Linked DNA regions of Homo sapiens: regions 1 and 3 are each reported to be linked to region 2. The links are microRNA targets in miRTarBase. Many come from high-throughput screens and were not tested one by one. Region 2 holds a microRNA gene; each other region holds the end of a gene's coding sequence.
The links. The annotated mature microRNA hsa-miR-297 reads AUGUAUGUGUGCAUGUGCAUG and lies in region 2 at 4,563-4,583, opposite strand. An mRNA with a match to its seed (bases 2 to 7 or 8) in the 3' UTR can be bound and repressed. Matches are read on the target gene's strand: a 7mer-m8 pairs with bases 2 to 8, a 7mer-A1 pairs with bases 2 to 7 and ends in A, and an 8mer does both.

Region 1: miRTarBase lists GPC5 as a target of hsa-miR-297. Seed matches in the 3' UTR shown: 8mer at 5,709-5,716.
Region 3: miRTarBase lists KCNQ3 as a target of hsa-miR-297. Seed matches in the 3' UTR shown: 7mer-m8 at 5,405-5,411.

The regions. Positions count from the first base shown.
Region 1 is chr13:92,865,391-92,872,597 of GRCh38, reverse strand. It overlaps GPC5 (glypican 5), which reads right to left. Exons shown (of 8, transcript NM_004466.6): 8 at 5,361-6,316. The coding sequence ends at 6,159. Among named protein-coding and RNA genes, the nearest start is that of GPC5-AS1, 150 kb to the right of the region's middle.
Region 2 is chr4:110,856,062-110,863,268 of GRCh38, forward strand. It overlaps MIR297 (microRNA 297), which reads right to left and starts at 4,586; the gene lies at 4,521-4,586.
Region 3 is chr8:132,123,100-132,130,306 of GRCh38, forward strand. KCNQ3 (potassium voltage-gated channel subfamily Q member 3) reads right to left here. Exons shown (of 15, transcript NM_004519.4): 15 at 1-6,897. The coding sequence ends at 6,163. Among named protein-coding and RNA genes, the nearest start is that of HHLA1, 16 kb to the left of the region's middle. RefSeq lists enhancers at 5,734-6,234, 6,235-6,735.

The sequences.
Region 1 (7,207 bases), not on the chromosome of region 2:
CTCAACCACATTATTTTACAAATAAAGAACTGAAGTTCAAAGAGTTACAGGACTTGCCGAAGGTCATACAGAAAATTACTGCTAAAGCCTTTGAAGCTCCATTTGCTGTTTTCTCCAGCATTTTTGGATGCTTGTGAGTCAATGAACGAGCCAACTACCCCATCATATGGCCACACTAGGGCACCTGGCATATGGAATCTCCTCAGGATCCTCAACCTTACTACTAGAGCTAAATTTGAGATGAAAGACAAATGAAAAATAAAATATCTTAGAGAGAAGACATTTTAGAAAGTGAATAAAACAAGGGAACATTTAAAAATAGCCTATACAGCCTTCAAGTAGCCTAACCTAACCTAATTGACCTATCAAAAGTTTTCTGAACCCTGGGATACTGAGTGGTGCAGTGGAAAAAAGGATTTTGAAGGCTGATTTTAGAATGCTTGCTTTGTCTATCACTGGCAATGTGACCTTAATGAAGTGATTTTGCCTCTCAGAAATAACCACTTGGGGGTAACTTAGGTGAGATACTGAGCAACACACTTCTTGTTTACTCATATTTGTTCTTCCCACCGCGCTTGGGTTGTACTGGTAACCCACAGTATAATAATCCCACAGAGATGGAGGTCTAAATACACCAGTCAAGGAGACCTTCAAGCAAGGTTTGGAGGTCTCTAAATTTGTCATTGTAGACACCAATTCACATTTGAATACTGGGTCAGAGCTAATATCCTTTTATATTCAATGAAAGAAAGACCACTTACTCCCAATACTTAAAAAAATAAACTTTCAGTGAATAAGCCTCATAGCCAGGATGAGTCCAGGCAAAACATGAAACATGAAGCAGGCAGTATGGGTTTCTTGTGCATTCCAGAGTCCATTGCTTCTCTTCTCTTTCCCTTTCCTGAACCCTACTCATTCACTCTCCAACCATCTTCTCTACGCTCTGGATATGGTTTGGCTCCAGGTCCTCACCGAAATATCGTGTTGAATTTTAATTCCCAGTGTTAGGAAGGGACCTGGTGGGAGGTTATTTGTTCATGGGGCTGGAGTTTCCCCTTGCTGTTCTCTTGACAGTGAGTTTTCACAAGATCAGGTTGTTTGAAAGTGGGTTGCACTTCCCCATTCACTCTCTCTCTCCTGCTGCCATGTGAAGATTGTGCCTGCTTCCCTTTTGCCTTCTACCATGATTGTAAGTTTCCTGAGGCCTTCCCAGCTATGCCTACTGTACAACCTACAGAACTGTGAGTCAATTAAACCTCTTTTCTTCATAAATTATCCAGTCTCAGGTAGTTCTTTATAGTAGTATGAAAACAGACTAACACAGATCTCTTCCCCTATCAAAAACTTATTGACAGGCAGAATCCATAACTAAATATTCTAGTGTTGTCCCATCCTGGAAACATGTGCACTTTAACAGAAAGCTCTGTGGGAAGGGAACAAACACGAATCATTATGGCTCATCATGGGCCAGCAGGGTCCTAATAGGTGTTGGATTATCTAGTTCTCTAAGTAACACTGTGAGGTAGATACAGTTATCTCAATTTTTACAGATAAGAAAAGAGAAAGGAAATAGAGACAGTAGCCAGAAAATGTATGTGGGGAATGAGTATGTATATGGATGGAGCGGCAGGGTGGGGGGGTCAAGGAGAGAAGTGAGAATGTGCCCTGGGTGAGCAAATCACATTGACTTTGCAAATTGGGTCCTGGAACTCTTTGATCACAATTATGGAGTCACTCTTTCTGGAACATACTATACCGTTCACAGCATTTGTCTTACAGCTGGGCCTTCTTGTTCTTGTTCTTCGTTTTTCTTTCTTCTTGTTATGCTAGTGGTCTTGGCTGAGTAATCTCAGGAAAATCAGAGACCTCCCTTTTTTTCTAAGAGTCTTCATTCCTTCCAATCCAACATGTTTAAAGGTGGGTATCAAACTCATAAAAGTAAGAATTTACTTATTACTGCAGTCAGTCCCATTCCTTCTGTCTCCAACCAGTTTTGATCCTTAAATGTTCACCGTTCTGTTCTTAATTCTATGGTCTTTCAAATTCTGATATATTGTCTTTCACTCTGGTCTTCAATGTAGTCAAAGTAAAATTTTAAGGGGAAAATAAGATGCGTGATCTTCTCACACACATTTTCATGAAGTTGATTCCAGTGTGAGAATTGGCAAGTGCAGGAAGGCAAAAGTCTCTTAAATCAGATGTTTCCAAAAAGTAACCATGGACATCCACTCCTACTCTACTCTCTTCCAAATAAGTTATTGTTTTCTGCTATGGAAATATAAATTATATTGTGATGAAATTACTCAGTTTTCTCTGTGCAAGGAGGCAGAAAGGATAGCTTAAGAATTATATTTGATTAGATCTCTAGTCATAAAGTAATTATAACAGTAATTCAGTCACTCTGTAATTTTACTAAAGGCAAGGAAAGCAGACTTTTGACTTGAGAAATATGTTTTATCTGTATTTTAATCAAAAATGACTTGTATACAACAATCTGCATTTAAAGAAAAACTTGATATGTTCACATTCATACCTAACAACATTAGAAATTATTATTTCTGAATTTTCATAACCCATGTAATTGTATATGAATGACATTAAAGGTTGCAAACTAAATACAATAGTGATGTAGCCTGCTCAACAAAGTTCTCATTCAGAATAAGAGACGTCTAGGTTGAATATATTCATTCAAGAAAAAAATCATTTTTATTGTCCTTGAAGGATTCTGATGTTAGAAACAATATTTTATATGATAGCAAACAGTTAGTAATAAATGAATTTAGTCCTTTTCAAAGCATCATTATTGAGCACTTCAGAAAATCTGAGTGTTGGGAGGAAAGAGCTTATTAACCTCAGTCCTTTTTTAGTGAGAAGATAACCATGCAGACATTATTTTATTGTACCATGTACTGTAACCATGCAGACATTATTTATTCACAGAATAAATAGAGGATAAAGGCAAATCTAAGATTTAAAAAATAATTTTCTGCCATGCCCTTTCCCTTCCTTCCCTTCTTCCTTCCCTCCCTCCTTCCCTCCCTCCTCCCTCCTTTCCTTCCTTCCTTCCTCCTCTCCTTCCTTTCATTTTTTTATGCCATCCTATAGCCAAAGAAATGTTTTATACCTTTTTGTTGCAAAGGAAACTAAAATAAACTTCATGATCCCATTAGAGTTAAAACAGTTGTGTTTTCTTTCTCATTCTCGGCAGCTGATTTATTTTCAGGGCTGATGTGTTTAGAGTGGGTTTGAATATATGGGAGGGTAATGAATGGTACTAAAAAAAGTCCATGTTTACACTTCTCCTTTTTATTATGTTTCTACACTAATGTGCATTTTGGTAATTAGACAATTATTCTATAGCCAACTGTATTTGTTAAATCCTAGTTTGGAGACTTAAGTAGTCTCTGAATGATTTTTGTGCTAACCTGTAGTTCCTCGCTGTTGTTCCAAAACTGTATCTTTGAACCAGAAAGGTATACAGTTTATTTAAAGGTATCATACTCACCATCTAACTCTGTTATGATTAGTTGTATGACATCTGTCAAATTCCCTAATATTTATAAGCTCAGTTTTCTCATTGGTAAAATGGAAATGTCAGTGTTTTTGGGGAGATTAAATGACATTGTGCATCAAGGCATTTATCATGGTGCGTATACAAAGAAAGGCCAAGTAAATGTTAGTTCTGCTTCTAAACCTAGTCTCCCCAATATATGCAAAATATCAGACGAAGTTTTATGATTACTTAAACTCATAAAAATAACTCCGGGATTCAAGAATATGGCTCTTTTAAAAATTACACCAGCATAAAATGTGACTATGTGTGTGATATTTTTAAATACATACATTCAGTCTGATGTAATCTATTAAATAATCTTGGAAAGTAGACACATATCCAACACTTGTATCATTGCTCAAAACTTTCTTAGACCTTATTAATGAAAAACTCTCCAGAAGCAAATTCTGAGCCATATAAAAAATCAGCATTATTGTTTTTATTTGACTGAAAATCAAGCCTATCTTTGAGGGGGCGAAGAAAGTCCAAATGAGATACTCTCTCTCATTTGAAAGAGCTTTGCAATTCATAAGAAACTATGTAGATATGAAATGTCACAGAATGGGAAGTGTTAATGGATAAGTATATCCTTACTGAGAATATTAACAATTTTGCCTTAGGCTTTTAAAGAAATTCTGAAAACCCCAGTGTTTTAAGCTCTAGTAACACCATTATTGCTTATATAGTCCCCAAAGTGCCCACCTGCAGATAACACCCATCTGAGCATGTAAAACTTAGTTTAAAAAAAAATAATCATTTCTTGTATTGACTTTACCACTCTGCTTTTGTCCATTTCTTGCCATATCTGAAATTATCTTCTGTCAATTAATTTTATCCATATATCTTAGACTGCTAAAGCATGCTCTTCAGTTTGTTTGTCTTTAGAATTAAATTCCTCTTAAGTTGGGTCTGAAATTTTGCCGTAGCAAGCCAATCATGACTTGGGCTGGAGGGCAGCAAATGAGTGCCTTAGTATCACTTTTTTCCAAGACTGATTTAAATGAAGAGCTGAGGTTGAAGTAAAAAATTTTCAAAATAGGGTTAAGTTTGTAATTTGTGGAGTGTGTCAAGGTGAGTGCAAATGAGTTATTAACTGAATGGATCAGGGAATGTTAGGTGTGGAATGGAAGCCTAGGAAAATGGCATCCACAACTGATGGGTAGAATAACACTTACGGTTCTGAGGCATGTTTGAATGGAGGGTAAAACCTGATTGGGCAGCTTAAAAATGTTGTGATTTAAACTAACCATCCTTAGATCATTTTGTTAATTGAGAACTTAAGCGAGAACAAGGTTTGATCATATATTGTTTCCTGACTAGCAGAAACGGATTTTACCTTATTAATGTTTGCATTTGGCTGTGTCTTGTTTACGTCTTTGTCAGAAGTCATTTCAAATTTTTTTTTGTTTTTTTTTATTTGAGGTCAGCAATTCCCTTTTCTATTCTGTGACTTTGTATTAATTATATTTTCTCTCTGTAGACTGGATGTGATACTTATTAATAAAAACTAACTTCTCTTTTCCTCAAGTATAGCCATATACATATCCTATTAGTGTCTATTGAGGCAACTTATCCCAACTGAGAAATTAGGGACTGTTGGTTTGCAGCTCCATTAATGAGCAAATAGGAAAGAGCTAAAGTGTTGCATATCATCTTTTCTGTACATGTCTGCAGATATTCATAGGAACCTTAGAAATGCAAAGGTAGCCAATTGTACAACATCAGGCTTTAAAAAGTAGTACATAATATTTTGAAAATGGGTGAAAATAGCATTTTTGCCAGAAGAAAATGACAAATATTCTTCAAATTTTTCCACCAAATAGTTAACAGCTTTATTGGAGATATTCCTAGAGCAAGCATGTGCTTCCCAACATAGCTAAATCTATGAGGCAAAGAGAGAGATGGGAGCAGAGGCACAATACCAAAGATGCATTTTGAATATAATGGAATACAAATCAGGTGTTAATAAAATACTCAGCTTTAAGGTTCATCAGTGGCTAAGTTACAGTGGGTCAAAATTATCAAGGTTCTTCAGTGAAATTATATGAAATGCTTCTCAAGAATCTACCCCATAACTTATAGACATTCAGACATTTCCTTCTACAGCTTGCAAAAATGGAAGAGTCTCTTGAATATGCATGCATACTACTTGCCATTGTATGTTTTGATTTATTTCATGATATTCTAATTTCAATACTTTAAGAAATACTGCATACTGTTTTCATTGTCTGGCAAATACACTTTCAAATGAAAACATTTTTAATTTAGAAAGGAAGGGGCTTGGAATTGATAATAAAATTACAGATACACTAAATTCTTCTTATTCAAAGTCACTTCTGTGCCCTTCACATCTTCAGATTTAATATATTAGAAGTTAAGAAGGTTTTCAGTTAGATTGAAAAAAGACATATTTTTAAAGTGTGTCATTTAAACGTTGAGTTTTAGGGACTTTATGAATATTTCAGCTTGGCTTCTGAGAAGTTAGTGTAACATATCTTTTCATAAATATAATTGTTACATTGAAAAAGGATCTCTTATTCCAGGCATATGCAGAGAGAGAAGAAATCGAGACTTCAGTAAGGTATGTCAGGACAGAAGAGTTCAGTTACCAAATCCCGGGAAGTAACATCACCACACTTATCAGAGTGAATGTCATAGATTCAGTCGCCACTGCACATCCTGCTCCTGTTGTGTCTAAAGTACTGCCAGTGTCTGTTTGATGGATTTGCTTTACATCACTGAAGTTCATATCATCTGGCATCCCTGTAGAGGCAAATAAGAAAGCACAGGTGATGCATGACCACTTCACCATAATACGTCTAGAACAACTCTTAAACTCAAAGTGTGGACAGCATTGTTTTTGGGGACCATTCTCTATGTTCACCTAACTCTAACATAATTAATATGACACAGGTATTTCTGTCCTACTTAGATTGGAGAGTTCAAGCTCTTGTGTGAAAATTCTCAAATATTATAAGAGCAAAGTGAAAAGATTTTTAGCTTTTTAAAATTTTTGGAACATTTCTCTGCCACTGGTAAGTAAGTGAAGACATTTAATTAATTAATATATCCTAGGTATGGGATTAGTTCTTGTTTCAGAGATTTATCACCTTCAGTAACTGAAAACTTTTCCCATGAAAATAAAACCAGTTGAGGGGATATAATTGAATAAAATATTTTTTAAAAGTAGAATTTCTACAGATCATATTTTACATTAGAATAAAGTAGGCCTAAGATCTTTTTCAAATTTATTTTCATTTTTACTTGACAAATTTTATAGATATTGATGGGGTACAATGTGATATTTTGACAAGTATACCAGGAGGAATGATAAAGTCAAGCTGGCTAGCATATCCATCACCTCACATCCTTAGCATTTTTCTTGTGGAGGGAACATTTGAAATGTACCTTCTTGGCAATTTGGAAATATACAGTACATTATGAATGATAGTTACCATGCTGCGCAATGGTCTAAAACATTTCTTCCTCCTGTCTAACTAAACTTTGTACCCTCCAACCACCATCTCCCCTCCCTTCCCCACATCCATCCCCTGGCAGCCACCCTTTTACTTTCCCCTTTTATGACTTCAGCTATTTTAGATTCCACATGTAAGTGAGATCAGGAATTAGGACCTTTATGGAAATAGCAAATAG
Region 2 (7,207 bases):
ACAACTGGTTAATATGTCCATAAGACTCTTTTAATCAATAGACTTTCCCTTCTTTCTCTTTCTCTTTTTTCCCCCTGTAGTTTCTTTGTTCAAGAAACGACATATTTTTCCTACAGGGTTACCTACAGTCTGAACTTTGCTGATTATATCCTTGTTGTGTTTTTAAACATGTTCTTGTGTCCTATGCACTTTGAAAAATTGAAAGTTGAGTTGGATTCAGGTTATTTTTCTTGGCAATATCATTTCACTTGTTTTATATTCTGATTTATAAACATAGTGTGCCAATGTAGTTTCTTAAGTGGACCATTTAGGATGTTTTTAAAATGTTCAACTCCTTTTTATCTGATCAGTGGTTCTCCAAGCCTGGTCCCTGGACCAGACTCATAAGCATCACCTGGGAGCTCTTAGTGATGTAAATTCCTAGGCCCCACCCCAGATTAACTAAACCAGAAACTTTGGGAGTGGGGGCTAGCAATCTTTTAACAAGCTGTCCAGCTGATTCCAGTGCAAGTTATAATTTGAAAAATCACTATTATAGATCATTAGTAGTCATTGGCCATTTGTATTTTTCAAAATTCAAAACTTGTTGGTACTCACAAAGAAGAAATTGTGTAAATTAGTGTTTGCACGTTTAACATCTTGACAGATAAGTTCTGTCTTTTCTAACTCTTCTTCTAACCCAATGTATGGCCCCAGTTCTTGTGTCAGTCATCTCAGTAAAAGGAAGATGGGAAATCTAGTAAACAATTAGTATCATTAATTTGTCAGGATTCTGTTCTATTTGCTAGCACCCTATTTAATCTGACTGCTGGTGTTAACTATTCTGCTGCTCCATGTTACTATGCCATGACCTACTTATCATATAATTTCTTATTATTTTTGGAGCAAACCCAAGATCCTTACCCTGTACTTCAAAGACCTACACCTTTGTGCCTCATTTCCATCTGATGCTAACATGTAACAATTTAACCTTTTTGTTCTCCTTACCTTGTCTTGGCTTTCCTTTAGAAGAGTTCCCTTTTCATAAAAAGTTTTTATTATTGGAATACCTAAGCATTTATATTATATAATAATATCCTAGACCCTGTCTTTTGAAGAGTTTTCCTAGATTTAAACATACAATCTGAATATGGAACTCATTCTTGGCTTGTCTAGTATTTTTCAGCAGCCTCATACTCCTAGACATATATCGGTGGCATTGCATCCCTTTATGGGCAAGAGGCAGTAGTAGAGTGTAGGAGTTAAAAGCATGGACCCTGGGATTTGAATCTTCTGCCTGCTACTTACTATCTATTTGCATTAATTTCTTCATCTGCAGCATGAGGAAAATAATAGTATGAAACCCATCATGTTGTTGTGAGCATTAAATAAATTATTATATGTAATATGCTTTGAGGAAAGCCTAGCACATGGTTATCAATTATTCTCTTAATATTTTATTTGATCATATACATTTTGGTTTATGGGTTTCCATGACTATTGTTCACCCTAGGAAATTATTGTAGGTTAGGAATTATGCTAATAGGTTTCTATTAACATAATATTTAATTCAGTGCCACCTGCACTCAAGTGCTTTTTGAATTTAGTGCCATTCAAAATGCAAGCCCTTGAAATGAAATCTTAGAAAAAGGTGGGTGTAGGGGGGAGAATTTAATTCAGAGTAACGTACCCGACCTAAATAAAAACTTCTTAATCATGTATCAAAGGAAAAGAAAACCTTGTATCTAGCATTAATTATATTAATATAATACAATATAGTAGAGTTTTACTAGCCTCTCCCTTATGCACTGTGAAAACAGGTAGTTTGCAAAATGCACCTTTATTCTGCAGTAAGGCTGCTTTGGGTAACAGGGAATCAGTGACCTGTTCTATCATCACTTGCAAATCATAACAATTAATTGTGTTGAAAGGTCTCAAAGTCTAACTAGTAGTTAACAAAGAAAGCTTGAAAACTGAGACAAAGTGTTAATGGTCATGTGAAGGTAAATTTAACGGCCATATTGACAGTTACAATTATTACTTCTGGCAACAAGGTATTAGCAGGCTAAATACTGTAATGAGTTTCAGTACTTGCTTTTTACTACACTATGAGAAAAACTAATTATGAAATACATATAATTTATGATGTATATAATTTATTATTATTCATATGGCTCTGATATTGGTCAGTATTAAATTGCTTTGTCAAACATTAAAGCCAATAGACTAATGCTCAGTTTGGCACTATCATAATTTACAACTATTTAATACTATTAATTTTTTGTGGGGGGACAGGGTCTTGCTCTGCTGTCGAGGCTGGCGCAATCTTGGGTCACTGCAGCCTTGACCTCCCAGGCTCAACTGATCCTCCCACTTCAGCCTCCCAAGTAGCTGGGACCATACACGTGTGCCACCATGCCTGGCTAATTTTTGTATTTTTTTGTAGAAAGTGGGTCTCACTTTGTTGTCCAGCCCGATCTCCAACTCCTGGGCTCAAGCGATTCACCCACCTCAGCCTCCCAAAGTGTTGGGATTACAGGTGTGAGCCACAGCACCCGGCCTTTAATTCCTTTTTAATATTCAGATCAAATACTTTTCTTTCTTGTTTAAAAAATAAATTCAGATCAAATGTTGTTGTTGCTGTTATTTTCATATTCTGAATGTGTGGCACTCTTGACTCCTTGAATGCTGTGTGTGCATATAGGTAGATAATTTATGGAGCCGCTGAGGGGATTCCCTCTCATTCTTTCCTGACCCCAAGTCAGGAACTGACTTCCCATGTGGGAGATGAGATTTAGTACCCAGTACTTCAGTCGAAAGCCCATAGGCAGATGTTATGGCTCTATTTGCCTCCCAAAGTTTCCTTCAATGAAAGGACTCAAAGGGGGCACAAGTTAGTTTTCTTCTTAGTGGCCCAAAAAGGTGTGGCGAGGAAAAGAGTATTGCTGAAATATCTGCTTTGAAATTAAAGAAAATAAGACATTTCTTTAGATTAGCTTAGAATAATGAGATGTGAGAAGGAAAGTTTAAGGTATATAAAATGGGGCAATTTATAATTTGTCATAAAGTTGTTATAAGGATGGAATGTGTTATTATTATAAAGAGCTTAGAATAGTTCCTGGCAGAGAGTGATTTTTATTTAAGGGTTAGATATATAGTTAGTATAATCTTTTGGCTACTTTTATTATCAATTGATTATGAGATTGATCAGAAAAGACATTTGGAGATAGAGTGGGGCTGGCAAATGTGATCCCTTTTCCCCTTTTAGACTCTAATTTCTCTTTGCCCCTCTTCTTTTTAATCCTTCAATCTCTCTCTCAGACCTATGACTTGATGCCTGTAGACCCTAGGTAGTGAGATCTGTGTGCCTCTGAGGACTATGATGCAGCACTCCAACAGAAATAGCAGAATTCTGAATAAGTATTCAGTCAGCACGTTACTGTACTAAATGCTTTAGGCAACTGTTACACAATGGCAAGCATTTGTGTATCTAAACATTTCTAAACATATAAAAGGTAAAATATGGTATAAAAGACAAAAAATGGTAAACCTGTATAGGGCACTTACCATGCATGGAGCTTGTAGGACTGGAAGTTGCTCTGGGTGAATCAGTGAGTGAGTGGTGAGTGAAGGTGAAGGCCTAGGACATTACTGTCCACTACTGTGGATTTTATAAACACAGTGAACTAGGCTACACTAAATTAAAAAAAAATCTTCTTTCTTAAATAATAAATTAACTTTAGCTTACCATGGCTTTTTTACTTTATAAACTTGTATTTTTTTACTTTTTGACTCTTTCTGTAATAACATTTAGTTTAAAATATAAACACATTGTATCGCTGTACAAAAATGTTTTCTTTCTTTATATTCTTATTCTATAAGCTTTTTTCTATTTCAAAGATCATATATATATATATATATTTTACTTTTTCAACTTTCTTGTTAAAAACTAAGACAGAAACATACACATAGCCTAGGCCTACACAGGGTCAGGATCATCAGTATCACTGCCTTCCATCTCCACCTCTTGTCCCAGTAGAAGCTCTATTAAGAGTGGAAAACTGGAAATAGTAACACAAATGGAGCTGTAATCTGCTATAACAATGCCTTCTTCTGGATACCTCCTGAAGGACCTGCCTGAGGCTGTTTTATAGTTAACTTTTTTTTTATAAGTTGAGGCAGTATACCCTAAAATAGCAATAAAAGTTTACTATAGTAAATATATAAGCCAGTAACATATTCGTCATTATCAAGTGTTATGTATTGTGGATAATTGTATGTGCTGTAATATTATATGACTGGCAGCACTGTAGGTTTATTTACACCAACATCACCAAAAACGCATGAGTAATGCATTTGCTATTACATTATGATGGCTACGACGCCATTAGGTGATAGGAATTTTTCAGCTCCATTTTCTTCTTATGGGACAACTGTCACATTTGTGGTCTGTCGTTGACTGGAACTTTTTCGTGTGGTTCATGACTATATGATCAATGCAGAAGTTATACCATAGATTAAAAATAGAAATGAAATCTCCTTGATATATGAGTACATAATACATATATATGTATATACACATACATGCACATGCACACATACATACATATGTTCATAAAGTATGTAGAAAGAGATCTTGAGTTGGAAATAAGCCATCGTTCAGGCAGGTGGCCATGGGTTAAAGCTGTGAATTTACAAAATGGGGAAAAGGGAATCAGAGTAAAAAGCTATGCTATTACTCCATATTTAATTTTAATTGTGATGGGTATAGAAGCCCTTTGGCATGAAAGGGAAAATGGTATATATTTTAAATTTTCATGCCAATGATAAATATTTCACATGCATTAAAACCTGTAAAATATATTGTATTTACAGGAGCAAGTCACATTCTAGGGGGAAATTGCCTTTCCTGCAGTTGTATTTTTACATTACCCCAAATACCTGTGAGAACCAATTAGTCTCCACAACTTGCCATGTTCCTGTTAAGTGAACCTGGCACAGGAACATCCAGCTAATCCTTTGGCAGCCTTGTGTGAAGTACTTAGGAAGCCTGGTGTGTCCTTCCTCCAACCTTACAGCATGGGAGCCAACTCTGGCCACTGTTGGCCTGTTATTGTGCAGTGGTGAATTTCTGACACAAAATGAGTTGTGGAGATTACTGAGGAAGGAACGCAAAGTGATTATGTGGTCTCTCTTTTGGGCCTGATCTTTAGACCTTCAGAAAAATTGGCCTCAACCTTACAAAGATATGGACAAGGAAGCCATTCCAAACACGAAGTACTCCATTGTATAAAGTACAAAAATGAGTAATACCATCATTAAGAATAAAATATTCTCAAACAAGAGCCTACTGATTAAGAATGGAAAACTGGGCTGGGCGCAGTGGCTCATGCCTGTAATCCCAGCACTTTGGGAGTCTGAGGTGGGTGGACTGCTTGAGGTCAGGAGTTCAAGAGCAGCCTGATCAACATGGTGAACCCCCGTCTCCACTAAAAATACAAAAATTAGCTGGGCATGGTGGTGGGTGCCTGTAATCCCAGCTACTCTGGAGGCTGAGGCAGGAGAATCACTTAAACCCGGGAGGCAGAGGTTGCAGTGAGCCCCTATCGCACCATTGCACTCCAGGCTGGGCGACAGAGCAAGACTCTGTTTCAAAAAAAAAAAAAAAAAGGGAAAACTGGAAACAAACTGCCTGGCCTGAATCTTGGTTTCTCAGCTTACTAGCTGTGTGACTGGGCAAGTTATGTAACATCTCTGTTCCTTAGTTTCCTTATCTGGAAAATATACCTACCAGATGAGGTTGTTGTGGGATTAGACTAAGATAATGTTGGTCATGCATGTAAGCAGAGCCTGTCACTTACGTAAGTATCAACCAAAAACCTTTCCAAGCAAACAAACAAGGAAACAAAACTTCTGTACAAATCTTATTTTAAAAAGTTATAAAGTTATAGTTATTCTTAATTAATGGTTGAATGAGTAGAATTCAGATCTGTTATTATTTTTAAAGAATGTAGACTTGAAGTGTAGAAAAGGATTATTTTAAAATATAACTTTTCAGTTTTGGTGTTCTGTTTCACAGTAGAGTGACTACAGCAAATGCCAATGTATTGTATATTTCAAGACAGCTAGAAGAGAAGATTTTGAATGTTGCCACCACAAAGAAATGCTAAGTAGTTAAAGTGATAGCTATAATTACTCCAATTTGACCATTATACTATAGATACATGTATTGAAACATTATACCCAATAAATATGTACAGTTATTATATGCCATTATAAATAAAAATAAGTGAAGAGTTCAAAAAAAACCTTTTCAAAGCTTTGAAAATTTTTTCTGAAAGATCGAGTTGATCATTATTTTGAAGAGAAGAAAATGTTTAACATTTTACTCAGTAATTTTATGGACAGTAAACCAAATGGGCAGTCCTTTGGTTCACTTCTCTCTGTGCCCAGAAATACCTGGGTTGCCTTCATATGGCCTCAGGTTGTAGAGTTGTGAGGCACCTGACTGGGGTTGCATGGGATGTGGCAATCCTTATATTTAATATTTCATATTTTTAAGAGAATGAGAGTGGTGCAGGCGGGGTAAAGGGTTCTCTCAAGAAGGATGGGGCAAATACAACTGCTTCTGTCCTAACTGGGAGGAAAAGCAGACTGACAAAGTCAGAAAGCTTTGAGTTTCAGGTCAGCCTTCCCACTGACTCCCATTCAAACCTTGATCAAGTAATTTGACATTTCCTACCTCAGTTTCCTCATCTGTAAAATGGTGATAATAATAGCACTCACCTCAGAAGGCTGTTGTGAGGGTTAAAGAAGATAATGAATGTACAGAACTCAGCATACTGCTTGGCTCATATGGAAGCCCTTAATACATGTTAGCTAATAAATCCTACCTTTGCTCCTTGCTTCAGTGCTGGAAGTGTAGAAGCTGACAACTGGTCCCTTCTTTATTTAGGTTCATCCCTAAATAAAGGAAAAACACCATGTTGAGTAAATTTGGAAGAGACGGTATTCCCTGAGACTAGCAGAAGTCATAGCTATTAAATGTGTAAAACTGACTTTGTTGCATAGAAATCCTTTGATAAGTAACAGATGAAACTGTGATAAATGATATATTAATAAGTAAAAATTCACTTTTATTAGGCTTGCCAGATAAAATACAAGACACTGAGTTATATTTAACTTTTGGATAAGCAATAGCTAATTTTTTTGTTGTAAGTACATCCCA
Region 3 (7,207 bases), not on the chromosome of region 2:
GAAATCATGCCTGACTTCCTAAAATCAAAACCATAGGGATTTATCAAGAAGAAACCCTGTTTAATTGGCCTATAGATGAGGATGCAACCTAAGGCATGACTGTTGCTGAATGAGCCCAAGTGATGGGCCAAAAAGGTGAACCAGTCCAAACATGGCAGGACCAAGAAGGAACAAGGTAGGAGAGGGCAGAGGGGTGGAGGGCAGAGAGGTGGAGGGGAGGAGTGCCTGCATGGCCATGGGATTGTTCTTCATTCCCTTTCTCAACTGCACCCAGCAGCAGTGGTTTTTGCTAGGCCTTTTGAAGACAGCAGGAATCTGGGAGAAGGAACATCATCGTCTTTCACAGCATGGAAACATCAATCTTATTCCAGAGAAGGGAAGAAGTCCCCAAAGGTATGTCCGGTTTAACAGTTTCTCAAGTGGGCCAGGAAGTTCTTTTTCATGTTCTGGGCTCAATCGTGATGCTTTGATTTCACTTGGTATTTTACTTTTAGTTTTGTCTCTAACATCTGGAGCAAAGATCAGAAGACCTGAGTTCCAGATTTATTCTGTGACTCAATCACTGCTTCAATCACTGAGGGACGTGGTGTGATGTTCTTTGCTCTGAGCTTCTGCTTCTTGATCTAAAAAGACAGGTGGTTGTTCTGGGTGATCAAAATCTCTTCTTGCTCTGTGTATCTTAGAATCCATGAAATTATGTCTCTTTGCATCTATGATAACAAATCAAAATATGAATCACAATTTTCTTACAGGGTTGCTGAGGTTAAAGCCGTGAAAGCCTGGGAACAAATCTCCCCAGGGAAGGTTTAAGCAAGCATTAACTCTTTCTTCTGCAAGTTCCCCCATTCATTGCTAGGGTGTTGTCTGATAGCCACCATGCACAGTTGACTTTCCTTGGGAAATCATGAGTCTTTTATTTTTGCAATTTGGCTTTATCTCCTACACATCATCCAGATGGTGCAACATCTGGTACTATATGTCCAATGGAATTGCCACAACTCAGCCACTGAGATCCAACATTCCTGCCTCTCTTCATTCCAAGATTCCTTCTGTTCTTTATTGTGGTAGACAAGAGCAAGCATTTTTATTTGCAGAGATGTACTTATTTAAAAAGCAATTGTGAAAGCATTTGATTTAATAATTAGGATTGTTTCTCCACGATTCTTTTTCTGAAAAAAAATTTTTTTGGTGTAAATTTAGAGTTTATAAGTAACACCAAAGACTGAGACAATGAAGTCCATGCATACTGTAAAAAAATAACATAAATAACAGTCCCTAGTATGCATCAGTCATTGTACTAGAGGCTTTGTGTGTACATTGATTGTCTCACTTGAAAATCAAAACACGGCAGAAGAGTCAAATGCTTTTGAATGTGCTGAAACTCAAATTTTCTTCCAGGTCATCTCTGTATGATTCCTCTTTTACACTGCCATTACTGGCTTCTAAAACCACTAAAGCTATGCAGATAGCCTGGTCCTAACATGTTCTAAACTGGGCATTAGTGAGGGGCTGCCTGCTGGCTTGTTTAGGGGCCAGTTGGCTCAGTTTGGAATGGTTTAATATCAGCAACAATAGCATTGGGTTGATTTGAATATAAACAACTTAGACTTTAAAAGTTCATCCTGAAAAACAAGCCTTCAAGGACAAGTGAGGACATGAAGCAAATTCCTAAGGATGCCTGGGGTTCAGGAAGCAAAGAAGAATCTTTGGTTATTCATGAAAACCAAATACCAGCTATGTGGCATCTTCTGGGAAAGCACAGGGGTGGGAGAATCCTGGGGTGTGTTTGGCAGCACTGTCCAAAGTACAGTTGACTTCTTAGGCTGCTGAACAAATTTCTTCTCTTGCCCCAGGAGAATTTGATCTGCAGGTTCCCATAAGTAGAGTAACATCTTTCTCTTGAAATAGGTGCTGTGTCATAGTCTGTATCATAAGCTTCTCTTGGTCAACATAATGAAATGAAAGTAACTCAGCTCCTTGACTGGTATCAATCTTAGCAGGGATTAGGAGACAAGAAGAAAGCTGGTTTCTCCAACAATCTTCCTCAGATTCCCTAGAATCCCCCCTTTTTGCACAGCTTCTCTGGAGCTATGAAGTTCAAAGCATTGAATCCAAACTCGAAGTCCCCATTCAACCCACTCAGCCTTGACTGGGCTGATTGGATCATTGCCATTTTGATGTAGAACCTTTGCTCTCATTTTCATGTTCAATTTTCTATAGTTTCCAAGCTAGGAAGCATTTCTGTCTGTATAGAGTTGTTTGCAGGGATGAAATCAGGTATTTTATTTTCCTGGTAGACATAGTTTGAAGGGACCTCTGATGTTTGAGACCTCTAGATTCCTAGCATTTTGATGGCAGAAACTGTGGTTTTCTTATCTCTGAACTTCCAGTGCACTGCAAAGTTCTGGGCATATATTGGTGCTTAATAAACCCTGTTAAATGAATAAACAAATGATTTTTTCTTTATTACACCCCCATTTCAGTAGCATGGAATTATGAGGATGATTTTGCCAAATTATGAGTAGGTCCTATTAGATTAGGTTTTTCTACAGGAAATTATTCTTTCAAACTACAGTGTCTAGGAAGTACCTTGCACAAAATAGACACAGGATGCATAATTGTTGATTAATTAGTTCATTTTAACCTATACACCTTGGGGTTATCTAGTTATGTTTTCATGAAAACTAGGGCTTTGTAATATCAATGTCATGTCTAATAAGCCTAAATTTCCAGTTCTAAAAACAAAGTTATTCAACAACACTTTCTCAATTTGATGTGTTTTTCTTTTCCTGAAATAATTTTTTTCTTAAGCTTTTGATATTTGCTTTTGTGCTGACATTTGATAGTCAAAACTCAAACGATCTCAAGTACTTCTTTCTCAGCTCAATAGGATCATGTTTCGCTTAACATTTGTGAAGTTGATTTATCTAATTCATTTTGATCTTGCTAAAATATGACCTTTAAAATTTTTCATGTCACATTGTGACCCAGAAAGACCAAATACATACATGAGATCATAGTTTTACCTGATAATATCACTCCTAGTTTGATGATGGAATTAATTTGTCAATATTTCATGGAGTTCTGCTGAAACGATTGCAATTTCTTGGGCAAGTTTCAGAACGACTAGTATATCTGTGGTCATGTCATCTTGGGTCATGTTAACCAGTTCCATTGGATTATCATGCTGTTCCCTTGTCTGACAAAAGGATCTTTGTGAAAGCACACACTGTTTCTTCCCATAACTCACATTCAATTCCAGACCCTGAATTTCTGCTTGCTCACTGTGAGCCATATTGTTGAGATTGTCTGTGCATAGGCAACTTGAGCAGGTTTGGTTTGCCTTTCTGGAATATATTTTTTGGGGAACAAAAGGAGAATATCAAAGCAGAGTTATTCCAGAAGATCATTTTTCTCTTTTCCTTTTTGTTTTCTTAAATGGGAAAAAAACAGCTCTTAAGGTTCTTATTATTTATTCATTCATAAAACATGTATTTTGTCTATGTCTATACTGATAAAGACAACTTACTAGATGTTAGACAATCAATACTTCCCTACTACTGATCAATACAAACCCAATCTCTGCTGTCCTGGTCTTATGATCCAGCAGGGAAGCTAGACTGCCTGCCTATGGTTTAGGAAATAATACAAGCTCCAATCCTTTCTAGGTTATTAAAAGAATCTAAGGTAGTTCCTCCAATTTTGGATCAATGGTAAATACTTTAAGGTAGAACTCCATTGAGTTGCTGGAAAATGCATCATCTATTGGTAAAATACTTAAGATAGTAAGTTCTTCAAGAATACTAATAAGTAAGTTAAAAAATTAATTGGCGCATATGTGGAGAGTATGACTCACTCTCCTTTATTGTTGGTTTCCAGTAACTCATGTACATAAAGAAGAGCATAGTAACATGTTGGATGTTAGGCAGGTGATCATCTCAAGTGAAAGATTCCAGGAAGATCAGGATTCAATAATCAAGCCCTCAGGAAGGGGCATAGGGTTTCTTAGGTTGTAATCCCCACTGGCACTTTCAGCCATATTGAAGGAGTGGGGAAAAGGCCCAAATAACCCATGCCCTTTGTCCTTCAGATTGCCAGCATGTCAAATGGAAGCCCGTGGGGCTTCATGTCTGATGCATTGAGCATTCTGGTATATTTCCCATCTCAGACTTCAAGGTCTACACCCATCCATTTATGGGGCTCTCCATAAAAAACACCCTTCTGCTGCTCACAATGTCTGCCCTTGGCCTGGGACTTTGGGCTTTGGTTCTAAGTTCCTAAAGTCAGGGGTCAAGCTCTAATCATTACTGTATTCTGAGCTTTTTGTACAGTAACTGTTGACATGTGAGTTGAAAGGAACCTATCTCTGAGGAAGTGATTCCTCTCTCCAACATAGTGCCAGACTCTCGTATTAGGAAATGATGAAACCATCAACCAAATGTCTGCCATAGCTACTGTGGCTCTTGACAAGACTGTGAGGGAGAATAGCAGTGTCAGCTGCATACAGACATTTGTTTAGGTCATCTGGATTATCTTGATTGTCACCATGGCAACTATCCACAACCAGTGCCTAGGTGTGTGAGAAGAGTGATACAATAATACTGTGGCATGGTCATTTAGCTAATTCAGTCTAAGCCTAACAGAAACCTTTTCCATCAAAGTTTTTCAGAGAATAACAACATCTCATAAGAGGCCAGAGGATGGCTTGTGCTTAATATCACACCTGTACAGTAGGGCAGTGCTTCCCAGGCTGTCTGCTTACATTTTAGCTTGTCTTACGGTTACATATGGTTTTAGTATTTTCATTTAAAAAATCTGGGTTGGTTCCATAAATTTGGAAAAGTAAAATTGGACGGTTCTGGAAATTTTGCCTGTTTACACATCTGTAAATGTAGCTTGCTTGCATTATTTTTTTCTAGATCTGAAATGCATTGCATCAAGCAAGCATGTTTTGCAATAAAAGTGGAAATCCCCCTCCTGCTGGATAAACTGGGTGCTTTCCACGCGACACAAAGTCATATATCTTGACACAATCTCTAGGATGCATTATATAAATGGAAGAATGGTGTGGTGAGGGGAAACAAGGTCAGGGAGAGTGGGCAGACCTGACTTTTGAGTCCTGGTTCTCTATGGGACAACTGAGTGACTCTGGGTATGTCACTTTACCTGAGCCTAAGATTCTTCATTTATAAAAGGAAGTCCTTGGACTAGAAAATTTCTGTGTGCCTTCTTGACTTTAATTTCTATTTTAGATGGATATTTTGTACTTCAGTATCATGGGAAGAAATGAGAGTTGGAAATTCATTTTAAAGGCACTGAACTCAGCTCCTGCCCAGAGGGGCACTTCACTTCTGATAAATTCCATTGTCCTTGGCTACATAAATTGGAAACTATTTTAACTTTGTGTATGTGTGTGTGTGTGTGTGTGTGTGTGTGTGTGTGTGTGTTTTCTCCCTGCCAATTCATAACTCATCAGAAATGCTACACTTGGGATTACCACCACTTTTTACAGATAAGGAAACTGAGGCATGATACTAAGTAACATCAGGCCAAGTGAGGTCTTTTGGAGAGCTTTTAAAAGGTTTTGCCTTAAATATTTGTTTAAATTCTTTGTTTTAGAGACACAATGACTATCTCATTCCTTTCCTAATGTTAGCTCAGTAGGCAGCCCCACTGATACACAATGTGGTTTTGTTGAGAAAATTATTTCCTTGCTTTCAAAAACAGTTAATTGCTGGAGCGTTTTACACAAGAGGGCAGTGATCCTAGAAATAACTTAAACTACTTTCTCTGCTTACCAAACCAAAACCCAAACCAGCCAACCAAACAGACAAATAGCATGGCTCATCAGTAATTTCTCCCTGTACTGGTCCAATCGTGATTAAAAGTAAGAACAGCAGATAAATGTGTATCCTAGAAGAGATTAGCGGAACCATTTATATAGTGTAAAGTCATGCAAACCATGCTGAAAAGGAAGCACTTTGTTGTGGTGACATGGGGAGGAAGAGGCTGTGGGAAGCCCCTGCCTGGGTGGGGCCACCACGCACACGCATGCATTTGATGCAGCCATTGGTGTCCCCGCTGGTAAGCGTCGGGTGTAAGAGTAAGTGAACTATACAAAGTCTGTCTACATTACAAGGAGGGGTCAGCCAGTGACCTCTTTTAAATGGGCTTATTGGAAGGGGTCCATACTGAATCAGAAATCCCATCCCCTGTGGACGACAGAGGCATGGAGCCGCTGGGCGTGAAGGGGTCCGTGTCTGTGTCCGTCTCACCCTCGGCGAGGTACCGCTTCTCCCTCATCCAGCTCGACCCCCCATTGGGGCCGAACACATAATCATCTCTGTCCTGGGAGATGCTGAAGCCACTTGGAGACCTCTCCAGCTCCTCGTGGTTGACCGACATCAGGGACAGAGGTGTGTCACTGTCTCGCGTGATGCTACGTCTCTGCCGGGGGGAGATTCGGTCCGAGTAGGGGCCCTGCAGGTCAGCCTGGGAGTGGCAGCTCACTCGGGAGTCGAGAAGAGTCAAGATAGGCAGGACCGTGGGCCTCTCCACATACGTTGTTGCTGAGGAAGGAGGAGTTGCCTGAACCTTTCCAGAACTGGGTCCCCCTCGGGGCAGGTTCACAGGGTCATGTGCAAAAAACCCATAGGGGCTGACTTTGTCAATGGTCACCTGGTGGAAGCTGTAGGGTGGTTCCGGGGGGCCTGTCTCAGAATAGTTGCAGATGATGGTTTTCAAATCGGAATACCTGTTGTCCTCCTTCTTCTCTGCTTCAGCTGGCGAGGAGGTGCCCTTGGTTGGGTAATACTCCGTGACCTGCACCTGCAACCGTTCCATGTGTTGCATGTGCATATCCACGAGGAAGTCCAGCTTCTTCCCCATGTCCTGAACCTGGAAAATCAAAGGAGCTGTGAATTACCACTTTCTCTGAGGGTGGGGATCGTTGCTATTGGTTGGGAGGAAATATTCTTTTTTTTTGTTTTTTTTTTTTTTTTGAGACGAAGTCTCAGTCTGTCACCCAGGCTGGAGTGCAGTGGCGCGATCTGGGCTCATTGCAACTTCCGCCTCCCGGGTTCAAGCAGTTCTATGCCTCAGCCTCCCAAGTAGCTGGGATTACAGGCACCCGCCACCATGCCAGGCTAATGTTTGTATTATTAGTAGAGACGGGGTTTCACAATCTTGGCCAGGCTGGTCTTGAACT